4 linked regions of the Homo sapiens genome follow. The protein of the gene in region 1 purifies or fractionates together with the protein of each later gene. This does not show direct contact. Each region holds a gene or a part of one and is shown on either strand. Other genes may lie near its edges.

The links.
Region 2: the proteins of TPPP (region 1) and ACP3 purify together in Homo sapiens (affinity purification with mass spectrometry; one large-scale study listed by BioGRID and IntAct). This does not show direct contact.
Region 3: the proteins of TPPP (region 1) and KLHL24 purify together in Homo sapiens (affinity purification with mass spectrometry; one large-scale study listed by BioGRID and IntAct). This does not show direct contact.
Region 4: the proteins of TPPP (region 1) and SPTBN4 purify together in Homo sapiens (affinity purification with mass spectrometry; one large-scale study listed by BioGRID and IntAct). This does not show direct contact.

What each region holds. Positions count from the first base shown.
Region 1 is NC_000005.10:682,693-688,024, reverse strand, and holds part of TPPP (tubulin polymerization-promoting protein), read left to right. Parts: intron 1-5,332.
Region 2 is NC_000003.12:132,329,990-132,335,321, forward strand, and holds part of ACP3 (prostatic acid phosphatase isoform PAP precursor), read left to right. Parts: intron 1-1,657; coding exon 1,658-1,744; intron 1,745-2,202; coding exon 2,203-2,355; intron 2,356-5,332. UniProt on the Homo sapiens protein: A non-specific tyrosine phosphatase that dephosphorylates a diverse number of substrates under acidic conditions (pH 4-6) including alkyl, aryl, and acyl orthophosphate monoesters and phosphorylated proteins.
Region 3 is NC_000003.12:183,644,994-183,650,325, forward strand, and holds part of KLHL24 (kelch-like protein 24), read left to right. Parts: exon of another isoform or gene 1-893; intron 894-5,302; 5' UTR 5,303-5,332. UniProt on the Homo sapiens protein: Necessary to maintain the balance between intermediate filament stability and degradation, a process that is essential for skin integrity.
Region 4 is NC_000019.10:40,553,380-40,558,711, forward strand, and holds part of SPTBN4 (spectrin beta chain, non-erythrocytic 4), read left to right. Parts: intron 1-767; coding exon 768-1,046; intron 1,047-1,136; coding exon 1,137-1,267; intron 1,268-2,704; coding exon 2,705-2,909; intron 2,910-3,643; coding exon 3,644-4,024; intron 4,025-5,332.

The sequences.
Region 1 (5,332 bases):
TGTCTTAGCCTTTTGTAAGGCTGTGTGGAAGCCTTATGATTTGCATTTTCCTGGTCATACTAACGAAGCTGAGTGCTTCCCACCGAGCACTGGGCACTTGGATACCCTCGTCCCCGAGGGGCCTGTTCAAGTCAGCTGCCCTTTGTGGATTGAGTTCCTATCGATTTGTAGAGGTTCTTTATATATTCTGGAGACAAGCCAACATTTGTTGTGCATAGCAAACATCTCCTACCCTGGGGTTTGCTTTTTCACTCTCTTGATGATATTTTTTCAACGAACAGAAGTTCTTTCTTTTAATCTGGTGCCTTCTAAGAATCTTTTCCTGCAGGACAAGGCTTTCTGTGTCCGTGTAACAAATTTCCCCCACGCCAAGAACATCAGAAATTCTTTTGCATTACCTTCCCAAAGCTTCTAGATCTGATCTGGAGGACAGCCCTTTAGCATGCAGACGCAGCTGAACCTTCCCTTAAATCAGCAAATTCCCGTCAGCTGACTTCCTCACACCAGCCACGTATGCAGCCTTCATTTTCTCCACCTAAAAATGGGCAACCAGAGGCTGGATGTGTCTCAGAAGGCAGGTGCTGTTGGCAGCCCTGGCCTAACACCCATCCTGGCTTAGGTGGACCCCCAAGGGCCTCTGGAGCCCCCTGTGGTCTCTCAGTGCCACCTGAGGGCCTCAAAGACTTTGTTCCCCATGAGGGGTGCTGAGCCTCTGGTCCCACCCGCTGTGTCACTGTGTCCAGAGGCTTCTGACAATTGACACAGTCCGGGGTTAACACAACAGGGACGCATTCCCCCATCCTCCTGGAGACCAGAAGCCCAGCGTCCAGGCATCTCATGAGTCAGCTTCCTCTGGAGGCTTGGTGGGACGCTCCCTGCCTCTTCTAGCTTCTGGTGGCTCCAGTTGTCCTGGGCGTGTGGCTGCGTCACTGCAGCCCCGGCCTCATGGCGACTGTGTTAGTCCGTGTGTGTTGCTGTAACAGCACCAGGCATGGTAATTTATGAAATGATATGTTCACTTCTCACAGTTCTGGGGGCTGGAGAGTCCAAGATCAAGGCACCTGCAGGCTTGGCGTCCGACAAGGGCCCTTCCCTGCTTCCAAGACAGGGCCTGGTTGCCATGTCCTCATGCCCCAGCCCTTTGATAAGGCACTCGGTCATTCCCAGGAGCCTGGCCCCCATAGCTGAATCTCATCCCCCAAAGGCTCTGTTAATGCCACCACAATGGGGATTAGGTTCCAGTGTGGATTTTGGAGGGGACGAATTCAGCCTGTAGCACCTTCTTCTCTTCTCTCTGTGTCTTCTCTTCTGCCTCTTCTAGGTAGAGACACTCACCATTGGATTTAGGGCTCAGCTGTGGATAATCCAAGATGATCTCATTTCCAGATCCTTTCTCCAAACAAGGTCGCGTTCACAGGTTCTGGGGATTAGATGGGGCCACCATTGGCCCAGAGCTGCCCTGGTTCCAGCTGCCTGCAGGTGCCCTGGACCCGGAGCCCCGAGGGTAACCCAAGGGCAGTGAGTGGGCTGGGGCGGGGCAGGGCAGGGTCCTCGTGAGTCTGGCACTCAGTGAAGCTGCGCTGGATGAGGGACCAGCCCCTGGTTCTGCAGTGTTCTGTAACCTGCTCTGCCCCCTTGAGAGCCTCGGCTGTTTTCTCCTGTAACCCATTGTGCCTCCCTTGAGAGCCCCGGCTGTGTCCTCTAACCTGGTGTGCCCCGCGTGAGAGTCCTTGCTGTCCCCACAGAAGGTGCCTTTAATGGAGGCAGGTCCCACCGCATCTGCAGCCGCCGAGTCTCCGACATGGTTGATGGGATGAGCCAGCCGGGATCTCTATTTTATTCCCTTTTGGGATGCTCTGTTGGTGGAATGTCCTGTGTCGTGCTTTAGAGAAATGGTGTTGGCCCAGGTGGTGGGCACTGGCTGGGCATGTGGTTTAACTCTCACTTGGGCCTTGGACAGCCATCTCAGACCCGTATCAGTCTCCGCCACAGCGTCCTTTGCAGAGTCCGGGAGCCCTGTTGGCACCTCCATCCCATGGTGGCCATTCGGTGGCAAAGTTGGTGGCCCTGGCAGCCCCGGCGTCTGTGGCCTGGATACTCAGCCATAGTGCTCTGGAATGTTCCATCCTCCCACCTGCGTCTCCCTGTCATCCTTAATCCTGAGTCTCCCACTCAGAGGGGATCTGCCGTGTGGCCTGGGAGGGTTTTCTCTGAGACTGCCCCGCCTTCTCATCCCTACACCTGAGTGCAGATGGGCTCTGGTGGCCGTCCCCAGAGTGGCCACGCTGGGCGCTGCAAGGACCACACTCTGCAGATGGGGGCCAAGATGTGGTTCCCAGAGGCAGAGGGCACCAGGGGCTGGGTGCACCCTGTTGACCCGAGAAGCTCCTCCGCAGCCATCTCTCTTCTTCTGAGGGCGGAGGGAGGGTGAGTGGAGGTGGCCAGGGCCATGCAGCCCCTGCTCCCCTGCCCCCCTTACCGGAAGGCTCCTTGTGCAGGGCCCCTCCCACCCCATGAGCCTTAGGAGTGTGCAAAGCCTGCCCTGTCCTGCCCAGGTCTGAGGCCATGCGGTTGTGGTGAGTGGCAGGGGTCCCGAGTGGCCCAGTGCAGGATGGCCGGAGGACGCCATGTGAGACGACCAGGATAGAAGTGTGGTGTGCTGGGGACGCTGCCACAGGACTCCACCCTGCCCTCCTCCTCCCACTTCCTTGGGGACTGCACTCAGCCTGGGCTTGGCTCTGGCCTTCAGGGTCCCTGGAGAGCAGGAGCCCGACCTCAGGTCTTCTATGGGGCAGAGCCTCAGCCCAGGCCTGGAGACCCCATCCTAGCGATCCCTCTGGACCAGTGACCTCTCAGGATCAACCAGTGACTCTCAAGAGTGATGACCTCTGGACCAGTGACCCCTCAGGACAGTGACCTCTCAGGACCAGTGACCTCTCTGGACCGGGCACCTCTCAGGATGGTGACCTCTCAGGACCGTGACCTTTCAGGACTGTGACCTCTCTGGACGTGTGTCCTGGGGCGGCCCCGGCCGTGTGCACCTGTCTGGCCTCTGGGTGGGGTGTGCTCCCGAGTGTGCCGTGGGGATGCTGGGCTGGAGCGGCTGATCATCCTGCCTCCTGTGCTGCAGGGGGATGTGCACAGACTCAAAACTGCCGGCTTTGTTCTGATTGGGAGCTCTGACTGCCTGACAGGCGGCCTGGGCTGAGAAGAGTGGGGCGGTTCACAGGGAGAGTCCCGCGGAGCAGGAGTGCCGTGCGATGATAATGAAAAACAGGAACCGTCTGCGCTCAAATGGGCACTGAAATAAGGAGTGGGGGCTGGCGGGGTGGCACGGTGTCCACCCTGGGCATGGCAGGACCTGAGCCACCTTGTTCCTTGGCCCTGTTTAATGGGGAAGCACCTCCTCGGCAGGAGGGCAGGGCTCCAGGTCCTAGAAGGCCCCTTGGTGGGACAGGAGGGCTGGGTGAGCTCCACAGGGGCTCTGTCCACTCCTTCCGCTGTGAGAGTGGCTTTTGCTTCTGGGGCTTCGGGTCGCTGTGGTCTTTGATGTTGCTGTCCCCTTGTCCTCTGGGTCTCCAGCGCCGAGAGCTGTCCAGGCTGAATGCCCAGTGGGCAGCTTGGGGCCAGGACCACACGGCGTGGGCCCAGGAGGCGCCCTGCAGTGGAGACTTTCTCCTCAGCCCTGCTGGCCAGGCGCCTACAAGGTCTCCCTTGGGGCTGTGCCGTGCCTGTGCTTCGGATTTACTGGGGGGCTGCTTCCCCCTGGTCCCGATCCCCTCCGCTCCCTCAGTCAGCGTCCTGGGGCCAGGTCATGATGGAGCACTGGGCGTTGCAGAGGGGCCATCCCAGGGCTTCGGCGTCAAGGTGGAAACTGTGGCCGTGGGACATTGGAGGGTCCATCAGGCCCTCAGGAGCTTTGCCATCTGCAGGCACGAGAGGGTCCTGTTCCGGCAGTGGGGTCTGGCCCTGGGGTTTCCTAAACAGGAGTGGGGTTTAATGACAACAGTCTCCAGGGACTCTGGGCAGGATTGAAGGCTGTGATGGCAGCCGGCCCGAGGTGGAGGGTGCTCCCCCTGGACAGGACTTGGGCGTAAAGGTTCTGAAGAGCCCAGCGGCAGCACACCCAGCTGAGCCTGTGGAGGCCGGGGTATCCGCAGGGGAATCTGCCCATGGAGAGAAGACCAGGGACCGCCAAGGTTGCCCAGCATGCACTCCCACCTGCAGGGCCTGGGACAGCTCCTGTCGCCAGCTGAGAGATGCCTGAATACTGCTGAGCGCCTCGGCCCCCACCCCTCCAACCTGTTTCCCAATCAGCTTGCAACACAGCGTGCCCTTCACAGCTCCCTGGATGCCAGTGCCCTGAGGGCATGGAAGGAAGGGGTTGGTGAGAGGCGTCTGAGCCAGCATGGCCCCTGCCAGGGGCATCCTGCAGTCACAGCACGTTGGATTCCTGGGCAGTGTCTCCAGGGGTAGAGGGAGCAGCTCCCACCCAGGCCCCAGGCCTCCAAATCACCAGGGAACCCATTGTCATCCCTGAACAGGGAGTTCTCCAGGGCACGAGCATCGGCTCCTGCCAGGCAGAAGCACGCGGGGCTCCTGGGAACCTGAGTTAACAGAAGGTTTGGGTTGAGTGTGTGGCGTGCGTGCCTGATGCTCCCAGCCTGGTCACTTCCCAAGGAATGCTTGCCCTCGGGTTCTGGTGGAATCCAGTCGGCTGCCATCAGAGTGTCTTTCTCCGCAGAGACAGGTTCTCCCTCGGGCTGTGCCTGCATGAGGCCATCGGGTGCGAGGGAGATGGGGAGGGGGCTGCACCCCTTCAAGGATGAGGAGACTGAGGCACAAGCAGCTGTCCTACCATGGGCACTTGCCTGCGAGCGAGCTCTGGGGGTCAGCGGGTGCAGCTGGAGAAGCTGCTGGTGGCTTCTCTAGGGCAGGTGGAGCTGTCAGAGGTCACACCCTGGCCTGGTCCAGCCCAGCACAACCCAGGGGGCCTGCAGGACACTTGTGACCAGGACAGAGGTTCTCAGGGAGGCCAGAGCCTGAGCAGGGCCGAGGGCTGGCTCTGAGGTCTCAGGCCCCAGGGAGGGGTGATGAGCTGAGGGGTGGTAGCTCCCACTGACTCCATGGCTCCTGCCTCCAGCTTTGACCCAGCACTGCTGATGATGTGAGCACAGCCTGTCCACCAGCCTCCTCTGCCAGCAAGGCTCAGCCACCCCACAGCCATCCACATGGAGAGCAGTCGTGTAGGCTCTGTCGGCGCCACCCCCGCGTGGGCGTGGGCAGTGAACAAGGGAGCACCGAGGCTGCTGCTACCTTTAAAACAGCAGCT
Region 2 (5,332 bases), on another chromosome or scaffold:
CTCACTGCAGCCTCTGCCTCCCAGATTCAAGCAATTCTCGTGCCTCAGCCTCCCAAGTAGCTGGAACTACAGGAGAGCACCACCACGCCTGGCTAATTTTTTATATTTTTAGTAGAGATGGGGTTTCGCCATGTTGCCAAGGCTGGTCTCAAACTCCTGAGCTCAGGCAATCCACCCGCCTTGGCCTCCCAAAGTGCTAGAATTTCAGGCCTGAGCCACCACACCCAGCCTTGTCTAGGTACTTTAAATCTACATAATCATAAGATGATGGCTGTCTAGATCAGTGTCTAGGTACTTTTAATCTGCCTTGTCTAGGTATTTTTAATCTGCATAATCATAAGATGATGGCTGTCTAGATCAGTGGTTTTTAAAGTGTGGTCCCTGGACCAGCAGCATCACCATCACGTGGGAACTTCTCAGTAATGTAAATTCTTCACGCAATACCCAGTGAACCATAAACTTTGGAATTAAAGCCCAGAAGTCTGTGTTTTATTGAGTCCTCCAGGTGATTCTGTGCATGCTAAAGTGTGAAAATCACTGCTTCATACAGACGACTATTTAAAAAGTCAGCTGTAAGAACACAATTAGACCTAAAGTACCTGCTTCTCCGCTACTCAGGTCACGGTATATTATTCCTTTCCCACCTTGTCCCTATCGTAGATGGGAAGTGATTATAGTGGTGGTCAAGCAAATGACAAGTGTGACAAGCAAATGACAAGTGGGACCAAGCAGCAGCCACCGTAACAACCTCCTCTCTGGCTCCCAAAGCTCTAGTAAGGCTCTGGATTAAAGACAAACTTGAATGCTGCATTTCCAAAGCATGGTGCTCTACTACATGCATCTGAATCACTTGGGAGACTTGTTAAAATGCAGATGTCAGGGCCCCACTCAGGAACTAATGAGCTGGAATCTCTGATGGAGATGCTGAGGAATCTGCATTTCAACATGCACCGCTGGATAATTTTGTTTCTGATGCACGGTAATGGTTGTGGACCACTGAGCTAATGCAGTGCATCTCAGTGATTACTGTCCATCAGAAGCTTGTTAAAAAATATTCTTGAGCACCACCCCCAAAGGTTCTGGTTCAGTAGGTCAAGGGTGGGGCCCAAGAATTTGATTTCTATAATGCTTTTAAGTGAAGCCAATACAGACCACACTTAGAGTAACATGTTCTAATTTTTTTATGAACCAGGAATTAATAAACTGGGCAGATAGTAAAGCATTGCCCACAGAGGTTGAAAGAGACTTTCAGATTCATCGAGTCTAATCTCATCAGATGGTTGAGCTTCTTCCACAAAATCCCCACCAAGTGGGTCTCTTTGAATGCTCTACCAACAAGGATCCCACTACATCAGAGATGAACCATTTACTTAAATCAGATCAATCACCCAACTATCAACTAAGCACTTACTATGTGCAAGTCTCTATGTTAAGTGCTAATGAAGATAAATGAGTTTTCTCAGGGAGTCAGGGAACTGTAACTAAAGAGTACAGCTCTTTTGTTTTCACTTAAATATGTGTCATTATTGTGGAACTATTAAACCACACCATTGTTCATTCTACACACATAATGAAAAAAAAAATCAACAAATTTTTATGATAGTGTGATTCATAGAACTTACTTTCATTAATTTTTGCTTTTATTTTTTTCCCATAGCTGGGCATGGAGCAGCATTATGAACTTGGAGAGTATATAAGAAAGAGATATAGAAAATTCTTGAATGAGTCCTATAAACATGAACAGGCAAGTTGGGGAGCCAAGAGTGGGAACTTTGATCTTTGAAATAATTAAAATAATTCTGCATATATAAAAGTGCTTTGCCTGTTTTCCAAGGAACTTATACAAGTCAGAGGTCTTGTTTACAAATATATTCCTCTTTATGCAAATTTTTGTTCCAAAAAGTTTGTGAATATGAGTAATTTCAAGATTTTATGAACACCTGAATAAATACTTTGGCTTGACAAGTAGCCACTGCTTAATTGATCTCATTTGTCAATTCAACTATTGGCCAACCAGGTTGCTTTGTACCATGATCATAATATTGCTCATTCCTTAACAAGTATTATGATTCTGATGTTAGCACAATGTCTGTAATATTTCACTGTGGGTGTCCTTTCCTTTCTCTAATACCTTGGCAGCTCTGTAGAAAAAAACCTCATGCTCCCTTTACGTTCGCTTCTGCTTTGATTTTCCTACTCTAGGTTTATATTCGAAGCACAGACGTTGACCGGACTTTGATGAGTGCTATGACAAACCTGGCAGCCCTGTTTCCCCCAGAAGGTGTCAGCATCTGGAATCCTATCCTACTCTGGCAGCCCATCCCGGTGCACACAGTTCCTCTTTCTGAAGATCAGGTCAGTATACTGGGAAAACCAGGAGATTTCAGATGGACCTAGAATGAGGAAGGCAGGCTACTCAACAGTTGTGGATTTGGGAGTCTGGACACTCCTTGAGCTGTGCAGTTTTAATTCTTTCTTAAATAAAGATACAAAGGACAATTTAGGACATGGAAAACCCTAGCTAAGAGAGAGTAGGAACCAAATTTCTCTTTGGATCTGTATGATCCACTTTGTTTTGCCACTCTTGCAACTCTTGGCAATTTGCCCCCTCATCGTCATACACAGAGAGAGAGAGAGAGGGAGAGGGAGATAGACAAGTCCCCCAGTGTTCTGCCTTAATTCCCAGGCTTTTGGTGCCCCAAACAGGTTTCTCCACTCTCCAGATTATCCAAAGATATTTATACCACCAAACACTCCTCCACTCATGAAAATCCACATTCCTAGGTAGAGAAAAAAAGATTTGAGTGCATAATCATTGCCTAACATTTTATGTGAATCATTGTGTTACCTTTCATAACAACTCTGAATGGACAATATTCTTGCTCTCCTTTTATAGTGAGGGAAATAAGTGCTTGGAGAGGTTAAATAACAAACAAATTGGTCCAAAGCAACACTGCTGGCAAGCATCACTCTGGGATTAAAACTAGGCCTATTTCATTCCAGAGCAATTTTCTTCCCTATAAAATCATGATTCTCAGACTTAGCTGCATATTAGGATCACGTGGTTTTTTAAAAAAAATCCTGATGCCCAGGGCACTCTCCGTAAGAAATCGGAATGTCTGAGGGTGGACCCAGGCATCAGTGTTTGAAAAATAATCTCCCTCGATGATTCCAGTGGGGAGGCAAGTTTGAGAACCAGTACTATAAACTAAGCTGCCTGAATGGGGCTGTTTGAGAGAAACTCTCAAACGTGTTTACACAGGTTGGGACCGACCAAGCTTTCTTTAATCTTTTCAGAGGAATGGGTATTTTTAAAGTAGCAATAGATAAATCTAACTAATCTTCCAGGTGTGAAACTTAAGGCTATATGAAAGAAATAGTTTGGGACAAAGAATCCCTTCCTAATTTCCCTGCAGTCCCATCATAGGCATGACCATCGCATCTCTTTATGGCTGAAGCTTAGCCTGACTGCTGGACCCAGACTTTTGCCCAGTGACCTCTGGGGTAGGTTACTATCCTCTTTGTCCTGCCAGTACCCCTAGAAATTTGACTTAATTGCTGCATCTAGGGACTTAGGGATTTTTCCCAAATGCTGTGTAGAAAGTCACTGGAGTTAAATCTACTCCAACCATTTTTCTGCTGTTTCTTGAAAAGACAGGATGATTCATTTACATCTCTTTTCCTTCACAGAATCATGAGGGAAGTATTGTGATTACCAGTGTTAAGCATTTGTGAATATTTTATTCCAAAAAGAAAAAAAATCACTTTACCAGCCTTTTCTGCAGAGATAAAGACTGGAGGTCAGGTGCGGTGGCTCATGCCTGTAATCCCAGCACTTTGGAAGGCTGAGGCGGGCAGATCACCTGAGGTCAGGAGTTCGAGACCAGCCTGGCTAACATGGTGAAACCCCATTTCTACTAAAAATACAAATATTAGCTGGGCATGGTGGTGCACGCCTGTAATCCCAGCTACTCAGGAGGCTGAGGCAGGAGAATCACTTAAACCTGGGAGGTGGAGGTTGCAGTGAGCCAAGATCGCACCGTTGCACTCCAGCTTGGGCAACAAGAGCGAAATTCCGTCTCAAAAATAAATAAAAAACAAAACAAAACAAAGACTGGATAGCAGCACCAAAATTTAGCAAAATGTAGACCACAACAGCTATTTAACAATTAATCCTGAATGATAGTAATTAAGTTACACAGAAAGAGAATGCAGGTGCTAGTAGAAGAGGAGGAAAGAAACAGGGAGAGTGAGGGAGAGAAAGAGAGAAGCAAGGAACATTATCTACCTATGGCTTCCATCTATCTGATTCACTAAGGTCAAAAAAATTCTCTCATATCAACTAAGAAATCTAATGAAACCAATCAACACTAGCTTATTCCTAGCATTTAGCTGTGCTGAATGCTGTAGAGAAATAGGAGGCGAAGTTTTTCTAATTTATAGTTTGATGAAAGCAAATTAGCATGTGTGAAATGTGTAGAAGACATTATAAGATGGCGGGCAATAATTTCAAGTACAAGCCACATATGCTGGGTGAAGTCAGAGAATGAGACTTACGTGCAGTTACCACAGGGCCGTCGTTCAGGTCTTCATAAAGAGAGTGAGAACTTGAACCAGACCTCAGAGGAGAGGGAGGAAGGAGAGGAAGGCAGCACAAAAACACGACCATGAGTGAATATGTAGAATGCCAGTTCTTCTGTGCCCAGAGTTCATATTTAGAAAGAGAATGAAAATAAAATTGATTATATTGGACACAGATTAGATAATCCAAATTTAATAGCCAGGAGGAATCTTGAGTTGAAAGAAAGGCAGTGTGATGTTAGAAGGAGGGCTGAATTTGAAGTTGGAAAACCTACATCCAACTACCACTTCAGATATATGACCTTGAGTAACCTCCGTAAACCTCAGTTTCCTTTCTGTAACATGGGAAAATAGCACCCACCTAACTTCTTCTTAGGGATTTGTGAAAGTCAAGTTAGTTAAAAAATGGAAAACACCATAAACTGCAAAATTCTGGACAGATGTCTCGGTGATTATTCTGTTTATTTTCAGCCTGACTCAATTTGTGGATGAAAAAACTAACATCCAGAAAGTAATTAATTAAATTCCAGGCCTTTTAATGAACAGTCTTCTGCTTTTTCTCTTAACAATATAATTTCTCCTATGGAACAATTTGAAAGCCATGCATGCAAATTTAGACTAAAAGCAATGGACACAAAAGAAACCTGTATACATTCTTCGGTATTACGCACATGTGATGAGTGGTGCTTTTGGGCACTTGCCTGACAGTAGCTTGGACAGAAAAGACACTGGAGCCTCAGAGAATAACTAT
Region 3 (5,332 bases), on another chromosome or scaffold:
CAAAGTCACAATCACTTGTGTGAATTTTTTGAACCTGAAATGCAACAGGAATTTAAACTAGATTAAGCTGGAATGAATAGTAGGTTCTTGATTTGGGTACCTGACTTGTAGCTAATTCAACCATAATTTGAATCTAGATTAATAAGGCATTAAGATTAAAATATGAGTTATATTCCATGTCATCACAGTTTATGTTTATCATAATTGAAATGTTCCCTTTTTTAATTACTTGTGATATTACATACATTGAACTTTTTGAAGTTTCACCAACAACAAAAAATTGACATTCAGGTACAGTAGTGATCTCTCTTGATATGGGGGATACATTTCTGTTTATAAAATGGTTATTGAGATAACTTCAAATTAAAAGCATATTTGATAGATACGCTACTGCTCATGTGTGGGAGCCTGGAATTTGGAAGTCATTCTATGCATTGTAAATGGAGTTGTAAATGTTAAGCTGTGTGTATGCACATGCATCCAGACATCCACACAAATATATGGGCAACTGTAACCCAAGTTGGGTGACGTATAATGAAGCAAACATGAACTCTGAGTAATCAGAAAAATCTTAAAAGAGATGGGAAGAAATCCATTTTTTTTTAGTTAGTGATAATAAATTTTAAAACTAATAAAATATTTTAAACTCAGATATATTTTTATTCATTTAGGTATTAAAATTAATAAAATGAAATAGAGCTTTTATTTGTTCTCAGGCAAGTCTGTTACCTAAAATCTGCAAAACATAATTGGGTCGAAGTTAAAAATCTAGCTTGTTTGGACCATAACATACATGTAGAGGAAAATATTTCCTCAAATTTAAGAGAAACTAATTTTCCTAACTAAATTTGTGGGAGTTACTTTGTTGACATTTACTCCGAAACCAGCCATTGGTAAGCATTGTCTTGTGTTTATCTTTACTTTTATATGTGTTCATTTAAATAGGCCTTCTCCATGAGCTTCCATTGCCATAACTATTATATTACATCACAAAGCTTTGTTATGTATTTAGAAAATGCATGTATATTTGTACATTTGAAATTTTCTGGGTTTTTTGTTTTGTTTTTTTTTTAACTTAGAAATGAGGGTGGCCAGGTGTGGTGGCTTATGCCTGTAATCCCAGCACTCTGGGAGGCTGAGGCAGATGGACCACTTGAGGTCAGTTCAAGACCAGCCTGGCCAACATGGTGAAACCCCGTCTCTTCCAAAAGTACAAAAATTAGCCCGGCATGGTGGCATGTGCCTGTAGTCCCACCCGCTTGGACAGCTGAGGCAGGAGAATAGCTTGAACCTGGGAGGTGGAGGTTGCAGTGAGCCGAGATTGTGCCACTGCACTCCAGCCTGGGTGACAGAACAAGACTCCATCTCAAAAAAAAAAAAAAAAAAAAAAAATCAACATACTGCCTCTGACTCTCCACCCTAGTGATTTCAAATGAAAATATTATTTATTTCACTTTAGTCTTTATTCCATTTGACTGATAAAATTGCTTGGATTTTTTCTGACTTTACCTGCACATTTGGGGGATAGACAGAGAAACAGAAAAGATCCTGTATAGCATGCAAGCATTTAGGTGTCCTTCAGATGTTGTTATAGCCAGGTATTTTTCCCTGAATGGTCAGAATAACCTGGCATATATCTGTCCAGAGAAAATCCTATCACCTAGGCTTCAGGAAGGTTAAGTGCTAATTGATATGAAGAGAATTTTTAAAATGTAATAGAAGTTTAAGGAGGAACTAGGCTGTCTGTACCAATGGGACATATTGTCTGTGCTACTTTATGTTATTATTTATGTTGTTTGAATATGTTTTATTGCAACTCTTTTTTGTTGTTTTTTTGATGGAGTCTCGCTCTGTCACCCAGGCTGGAGTGCAGTGGCGCGATCTAGGCTCACTGCAAGCTCCACCTCCCAGGTTCACGCCATTCTCCTGTCTCAGCCTCCCAAGTAGCTGGGACTACAGGCGCCTGCCACCACGCCCAGCTAATTTTTTTTTTTTTTTTTTAGTAGAGACGGGGTTTCACTGTTAGCTAGGATGGTCTCGATTTCCTGACCTTGTGATCCACCCGCCTCGGTCTTCCAAAGTGCTGGGATTGCAGGCGTCAGCCACCGCGCCCGGCCTTGTTGCAACTCTTAAAAAAAAAAAAAAAGCTGGGCGCAGTGGCTTATGCCTGTAATCCTAGCACTTTGGGAGGACAAGGCGGGTGGATCACGAGGTCATATTGAGACCATCCTGCCCAACATGGTGAAACGTCATCTCTACTAAGAATATAAAAGTTAGCTGGGTGTGGTGGTGCACGCCTGTAGTTCCAGTTACTCAGGAGGCTGAGGCAGGAGAATCGCTTGAACCTGGGAGGTGGAGGTTGCAGTGAGCTGAGATCGTGCCACTGCACTCCAGCCTGGCGACAGAGCGAGACTCCGTCTCAAAAAAAATTAAAAAATAAAAAATGAAAAGGATTACGCCTGTAATCCCAGCACTTGGGGAAGCTGAGGCGGGTGGATCACGAGGTCAGGAGATTTAGACCATCCTGGTCAACATGGTGAAACCCCGTCTCTACTAAAATACAAAAAATTATCCAGGCGTGCTGGCGCGTGCCTGTAGTCCCAGCTACTTGGGAGGCTGAAGCAGGAGAATCACTTGAGCCTGGGAGGTGGAGGTTACAGTGAGCCAAGATGGCGCCACTACACTCCAGCCTGGCAACAGAGCATCTGAAACAAAACAAAACATAACAGGCTGAGCGCAGTGGCTCACGCCTGTAATCCCAGCACTTTGGGAGGCCAAGGCAGGAGAATTGCTTGAGCTCAGGAGTTCAAGACCAGCCTAGCTAACATGGCAAAACCTGTCTCTACTAAAAAAAGTACAAAAATTAGCCAGGCGCGGTGGCATGCGCCTGTAATCCCAGTTACTCGGGAGGCTGAGGCACGAAAATCGCTTGAACCCGGGAGGCAGAGGTTGCAGTGAGCCGAGGTCATGGCACTGTACTCTCCAGCCTGGGCAACACAAGGAGACCCTGTCTCAAAAAAGCAAAAACAAAAACAAAAAACTCCAATAGCAATATCTTACATCTCTGTAAACCCTAGGCCTAGTACAGTATCGTGACAATAGTGGGCATATAATAAATATTTGTTGATGATGATGATGGTAAAAGCTGCAATATTAAGTAAATTCAGTGAGAGAATTCATGAAAATTGCAAGTATCTAGTGAATATTGGAAGTAGGATATCTGGGGCATTAGAGTGAGAAGAGAGGATGGAGATAAATAGGAACATGAAAAAGAAGAGAATACTATATATAAGAGAATGAGTTGCTTCTTGATTTTGATGTTACGTATTTTATTTCCCTTTGTGTCACTTAAAAAGTGGGGTACAATTTAATATGCGACAGGGTACACAAAATGCAGCCTTAAGATGTTAACTTTCAAGTCTCAGTTTTATTTGTGGCTTGCGAATGTAGGATGGCATCTCATTTTTTAGATTATATTATCTGTGACATCCTTTAGCTGACTTCTTTTTGCTTGCCAGTCTTAGGCCTGAATGTCTGACTTGAAATATTTCAAGAAGTTGGGAATGGTAGAAGGGATGTGTATGAAATTCTGAGAGTATGGCAATAGATGAGGTACCCTGAGTGATCTTAAACCAATTACTAATACACTTTGAATCATGTATCAGCTTCTGAAGATGTGGAAAGGGAGTAGAAGAATCGCCTTAAAATTAACCTTAAAGAGAATTGGGCTGGGCACCATGCCTCATACCTATAATTCCAGCACTTTGGGAGGCCAAGGTGGGCAGATCCCTTGAGGCCAGGAGTTCAAGACCAGCCTGGGCAACATGGCAAAACCCCTTCTCTACCAAAAATACAAAAATTAGCCGGGTGTGGTGGGTACGTGCCTGTAGTCCCAGCTACTCGGGAGGCTGAGGTAGCAGAATCCCTTGAACCTAGGAGGTGGAGATTGCAGTGAGTCAAGATCGCGCCATTGCACTTCAGCCTGGGTGACAGAATGAGACCTTGTTTCCAAAAAAAAAAAGAGACACAGAGAGAGAATTGATGGCTATAGCCAAGTGCCTCAATCCATCAGTTACTTACTGAAAGTCATTTCTGAGGGGGTTTTGGGATGTTTCTTATTAGTGAAAGGGAACAAGACCTAGATAACATGCATGAAATTTTTTTAAATGAATATTAAATTTTATAATAGAAATTTTGGTAGAAAATAGAGAAGATAAATAAAACATTTTAGCATATGTACATCCTATCCCTAGATTCACAGATACATTATTTTTTCTGTTGGCATATGTTTTGTGATCTACTTTTTCACTTACTGTGTGGTTACTACTTCCCCATGTCGTTAAATAGTCATATATAATTTTTAATGGTTGCATAGACTTTGTTCTAGCCAGAAGATGTACTGTGGTTTGACCAATCCCCTCTTATAGGGCATTTAGGTTATTTTGAGTATTTTCTATCAATACAGCATTGGACATCTGCATAGATAAATCTGTCGACATAATTCTGATTATTTCCTTAGGAGAGAGTGCTAAAAAAAAAAAAAGGACTTGCTGGTCAAACAATGTACATATTTTTAAAGGCTATTGATAGATATAGCTAAATTCCTCTCTAGGAATTCTATATTAAGATAATAATTATTTCACCAGGCATGGTGGCTCATGCCTGTAATCCCAGTACTTTGAGAGGCTGAGGTGAGAGGATCGCTTGAGGCCAGGAGTTCAAGATCCCATCTCTACAAAAAGTAAAAAAAAAAATAGCCAGGCATGGTGGTACGCACACATAGTCACAGCTACTCAGGAGGCTGAGGCAGGAAGATCGCTTGAGCCTAGGAGTTTGAGGTTACAGTGAGCTATGATCATGTCACTTTACTCCAAACTTGGTGACAGAGTGAGACCCTGTCTCAAAATAAAAAAGATTCTTAAAAAGAAAGATAACTGTTAGAATTCTAACTGTAGTCAAATTGTGTCTTACACCATTCTGACTTAACTCTACAGTCAATAGTATGAAACTCAGCTCTGTAAATGGGGAGGAAACGGAAGGTTATTAGTAACTCACGAAGTACATAGTATCCTTTCAGCTAGAAAAGGGGAGCTTAAGGAGTACTATTGCAAATTACCCCAATGTTCTAATTGTTCAAATGCAAATTTTTGTTGATTAGTTTTTATTAACATGAGATAGTGCTGTGTACCCTATATGAAATATATTATGTGATTTTGTTGTAGTGTTTATATTAAAATGAAATTATGTGATTTGAATACTGAATTTTTTGCATATTGAAATGTTTTCCTTTTTTTACTTTTAGCCACATAAAGAAGATCCCTAATAGTCATTT
Region 4 (5,332 bases), on another chromosome or scaffold:
GCTGAGGCAGGAGGATCACTTGAGCCCAGGAGTTTAAAGCTGCTGCATTCCATCCTGGGTGATAGAGTGACACCCTGTCTCTAAAAAAGCAAAATAAGGAGAGGACTTGCTGGCTGTTATTATCTTTATCAGTTGAGTCACACAAAAAGTTAAATAACGTTAAGGCACACAAAAAGTTAAAAAAGACTCACAAAAAGTTAAATAAGGTACTCTGTAAGTAAATAAGGTTAAGGCACACAAAACGTTAAATAAGGTACTCTGCAAGTACAGAGCTGGTTGAGGGAACCTTCTGGGGGATGGAAGTGTTCCGCACGCTGATCTGGGCACACCGGTGTATGTGTCTGTACAAATGTGTGCAACTGTATACCTAAGATTTGTGCACTCTACCGTATACAAATGATACCTCGGCTGCTAAGCTGCAGGGTTTCTGTATTAGGGCCCATCTTGGGTCGGCAAGCGGCTTGGCTCAGAGCACAGTCTCTGGAACCAGCCTCCTGTGTTCAAATCCTGTCACTCCTTACTGGCTGCTTGTTCTTGGGCGCCGTACTTCGCCCCTCTGTGCCTGTTTTCCCACCTGCAGCAAGCATAGGGTTATGATGAGTGAGGGAGTATCAGCAAAATGTTTACATGGTCTTGGCACGTGGTTAGCGAGCTGGGGGTGCTTGTTAATTGCCCCGTGGGCCGTGCCAGTAGCAGAGGAGCGTGTGGTCTTGCAGGGCCTCGGAACGCCCCCTCTCCACCCACATCCCCTTACCTCCTGCCCCCAGGGCCTGCGGCGGGAGATCCAGGCGCATGGGCCGCGCCTGGAGGAGGTGCTGGAGCGCGCGGGCGCGCTGGCGTCGCTGCGCAGCCCGGAGGCAGAGGCAGTGCGCCGGGGCCTGGAGCAGCTGCAGAGCGCCTGGGCCGGACTGCGGGAGGCTGCCGAGCGACGGCAGCAGGTGCTGGACGCCGCCTTCCAGGTGGAGCAGTACTACTTCGACGTGGCTGAGGTGGAGGCGTGGCTGGGCGAGCAGGAGCTGCTCATGATGAGTGAGGACAAGGGCAAGGTGCGCCCGAGCTGGGGGTGCGGAGGGCCTGGGGGCGCTGGAGCCGGGGGCCGCCGCTGCCGCCTCATCGTGGGCGCTTTGTGCCCCCAGGACGAACAGAGCACCCTGCAGCTGCTCAAGAAACACCTGCAGCTGGAGCAAGGCGTGGAGAACTACGAGGAAAGCATCGCGCAGCTGTCGCGCCAGTGCCGGGCGCTGCTGGAGATGGGGCACCCGGACAGGTGGGCGGGCGCGTGGCCAGTTCACAGGAATGGTCCAGCAGGACCTGAAGCTTCGCTGTTGGGAGTTGGCGCAGCGCTGGAATTGGACGTTGGGTGGGAGAGGTCCTCCTTGCTGTGTGCTGGAGCCCTCGAATTTGGCAAGTGGGCGGGCCGGAATGGGGGGACACGGCTCAGGGATGGTTGAGAGGGTGGGGCCAGGAGCACCTGGATTTGAGTGTAGTAGTGGGGACCTTGTCGGGGGAGAAAAGAGTAGGCGATGTCTAGGACTGGGGTAGAGAAGAATTTACTCAGGACAGGCAAGGGGCTCTTTCTACTCAGTGTCTGGGAGGACAGAAAAGCCTGTGCTGAGATTGGCTATGGCGGTGGGGCTGGAGACCTCCTGGTGCAGTGGGGTGATGTTGCCTCGTGTAGGCGGATGCTGAGCTCCAGGCCTGGACCAGGGATGGAATCTGTAAGGAGGTACAGAGAGAGACCTCTGTCCAAGTGGGCTCAGAGATTGGGGCTAGAGGTGGGATGCATTGGCTGGGGACCCAACCTGGGAGTCCAGAGTCCCACCGAGGTTCCTGGATAGGAGGGGCGTGAGACTGAGATAGAAACCGGGTGAGGCTGCCGAGGTGGGCGGATCACTTGAGGTCAGGAGTTGGAGACCAGCTTGGCCAACATGGTGAAACCCTGTCTCTACTAAAAATAAAAAATTAGCTGGGCATGGTGGCACGTGCCTGTAGTCCTAGCTACTGGGGAGGCTGAGGCAGGAGAATGGCTTGAACCTGGGTGGCAGAGGTTGCAGTGAGCCGAGATCGCGCCACTGCACTCCAGCCTGGTGACAGAGCAAGACTCCGTCTCAAAAAAAAAAAAAAAAAAAGAAAAGAAAAAAAAAGAAAGGAAACTGGGTGAGGCTGGATAGAGGTGAGCTTATCCATTTAGGGAAGCGGAGCTTTCCCTGCATGCTGAAATGCAGGGCTTTCTGAACCCAAGACTTGCAGAAAACAGAGTCCTGGCCAGGTGTAGTGGCTCACACCTGTAATCTCAACACTGGGAGGCTGAGGCAGGAGGATCGTTTGAGCCCAGGAGTTTGAGAACAGAGGGAACATAGTGAGACCTCATCTCTACAAAGAAATCAAAAAGTTAGCCAGGTGTAGAGTCACGTGCCTGTGGTCCCACTTGGGAGGCTGCAATGGGAGGATTGCTTGAGCATGGGAGGTGGAGGCTGCAGTGAGTTGTGATCACACCACTGCACTCCAGCCTGAGCAACAGAGCAAGACCCTGTCTCCAAAAAAAAAGAAAAAAGAAAAGAAAACAGAGCTCTACCTGGGGACACAGCCGTGTCTGAAGATTCCAAGGAAACACAGCCCTGTCCTGGGGAGGGGGTTTAGGGGGGTCACGCTCTGCCCCAGAAGTCTCAGGGGTCCATCCCTGCCCCTCCATGTCCCCCTTCAGCGAGCAGATCAGCCGGCGGCAGTCTCAGGTGGACCGCCTGTACGTGGCGCTCAAGGAGCTGGGTGAGGAGCGCCGGGTGGCTCTGGAACAGCAGTACTGGCTGTACCAGCTCAGCCGCCAGGTGAGCGAGCTTGAGCACTGGATTGCCGAGAAGGAGGTGGTGGCTGGCTCACCCGAGCTCGGCCAGGACTTTGAGCATGTCTCGGTGAGCATCATTAGTAATAAGTGATACCAGGAGCTACCACTAAGGTTCTCTGGGCCTTAGTTTCCTCATCTGTAGTATGAGGATAATAACAGCACCCGCCTCATGGCTCTGCTGTGAGACAAATGAGTTAATATAACGTAAAGCACTGAGGACCCTGCTTGGCACACATGCTGCCTCACACAGTGTTGGTTATTATTATCAGCTTATTATTTTATTGTTACTTATTGTTATTTTTATTGTTACTGTTTTGTTACTATTCTTGCCAGGTGTTCAGTAAGTGTTAGATATTATTTTTTATGATGATGATGATGATGATGATTATCATTACTCTTACCTGCCACAAAATGGTAGCCTCTGCCAGGTGTGGTGGCTCATGCCTGTAATCCCAACACTTTGGGAGGCCAAGGCAGGTGGATCACTTGAGGTCAGGAGTATGAGACCAGCCTGGCCAACATAGTGAAACCCCGTCTCTACTAAAAACACAAAAAAATCAGCTGGGTGTGGTGGCACATGCCTGTAGTCCTAGCTGTTTGGGAGGCTGAGGCAGGAGAATTGCTTGAACTGGGGAGGTGAAGGTTGCTGTAAGTGGCTATTGAACCACTGCACGCCAACCTGGGCGACAGAGCAAGACTCTGTATCAAAAAGAAAAAAAAACATTGTAGGCTGGAGGGGGCTGGTGTATGCTGCCCCTTTGCTCACTTTGCTGTACCCCCCCCCCCACTTCCTGATGGCAGGTGCTGCAGGAGAAATTCTCAGAGTTTGCCAGCGAGACAGGTATGGCAGGGCGGGAACGGCTGGCAGCTGTGAACCAGATGGTGGATGAGCTGATCGAGTGTGGCCATACAGCAGCGGCCACCATGGCCGAGTGGAAGGACGGACTGAACGAGGCCTGGGCTGAGCTGCTGGAGCTCATGGGCACACGGGCCCAGCTGCTGGCCGCCTCTCGGGAGCTTCATAAGTTCTTCAGTGACGCCCGAGAGCTTCAGGGACAGATTGAGGAGAAGCGGAGGCGGCTGCCCCGCCTGACCACCCCGCCTGAGCCGAGACCCAGTGCCAGTTCCATGCAGCGGACCCTGAGAGCCTTTGAGCATGACCTGCAGCTCCTCGTGTCCCAGGTGGGGCGCCGGTGGCCATCAGGGCAGGTGGGAGGGCCTGGACAGCTGTGGGCAGCAGAGTGGGCAAAAATCAGGCTGTGGAGCAGGTCGAAATTAGGCAGTGGCACAGACAGAAAGCGGACTACAGAACAGGAAGAAATTAGATAATGGAGCAGATAGAAAATGGACTGATGGAATGATATATAGAAATCAGGTATTGGCAGGGAAAAGTGGTACCTTAGAAGGTCTCACAGATATTAAACAGCTTCTGGCTGGGCGTGGTGGCTCCCTTTGGGAGGCCAACGCAGGCGGATCATCTGAGGTCAGGAGTTTAAGACCAGCCTGGTCAACGTGGTGAAACCCCATCTCTACTAAAAATACGAAAATTAGCCAGGTCTGGTGGCGGGCACCTGTAATCCCAGCTACTTGGGAGGCTGAGGCAGGAGAATCACTTGAACCCGGGAGGAGGAGGTTGCAGTGAGCCCAGATCTCGCCATTGCACTCCAGCCTATGTGACAAGAGTGATACTCTGTCTCAAAAAAAAAAAAAAAAAAAAAAGCTTCCAATAGATATTGGGCAGTGGTTCTCCTAAAACTGTGAGTTTTGCCTAAATCCAGATCAAGGGTCTAAAGGGAATTTTGAGAAGTCTGAGAGGAATTTGGCTGTGGTGTAGATAGAAATTAGACGACAGACAAGGCCAGGTGCGGTGGCTCACGCCTGTAATCCCAACACTTTGGGAGGTCGAGGCGGGCAGATCATGAGGTCAGGAGTTCAAGACCAGTCTGACCAACATGATGAAACCCCGTCTCTACTAAAAATACAAAAATTAGCAGGAATGGTGGCGGGCACCTGTAATCCCAGCTACACAGGAGACTGAGGCAGGAGAATCGCTTGAACCCGGGAGGCGGAGGTTGCAGTGAGCCGAGATCGCGCCACTGCACTCCAGCCTGGGCGACAGAGTGAGACTCCATCTCAAAAAAAAAAAAGAACTTAGATAACAGGTCTCTGATGGAAATCATATGACTTTTCTGAAATTAATTTGATGGGGGCGAATTTAATGAAAAAGGCAACAGAGATATTAGAAATTAGGCAGAGGTTCTGGCCAGAATTCGGATGTGGATCTGAGCAGTCAGATGGAAATGAAGCTGCAGGCCCAATACAACTCAGGCAGCAGGAAATTGGGTTGCAGTTCTAATGGAAGGTAGAAGTTGGGCAATTTTTGTTTGTTTGTTTGTTTATTTTTGAGACAGGGTCTCACTCTGTCACCCAGGCTGGAGTGCAGTGGCGCGATCTCAGCTCACTGCACCCTCTGCCTCCCAGGCTTAAGCG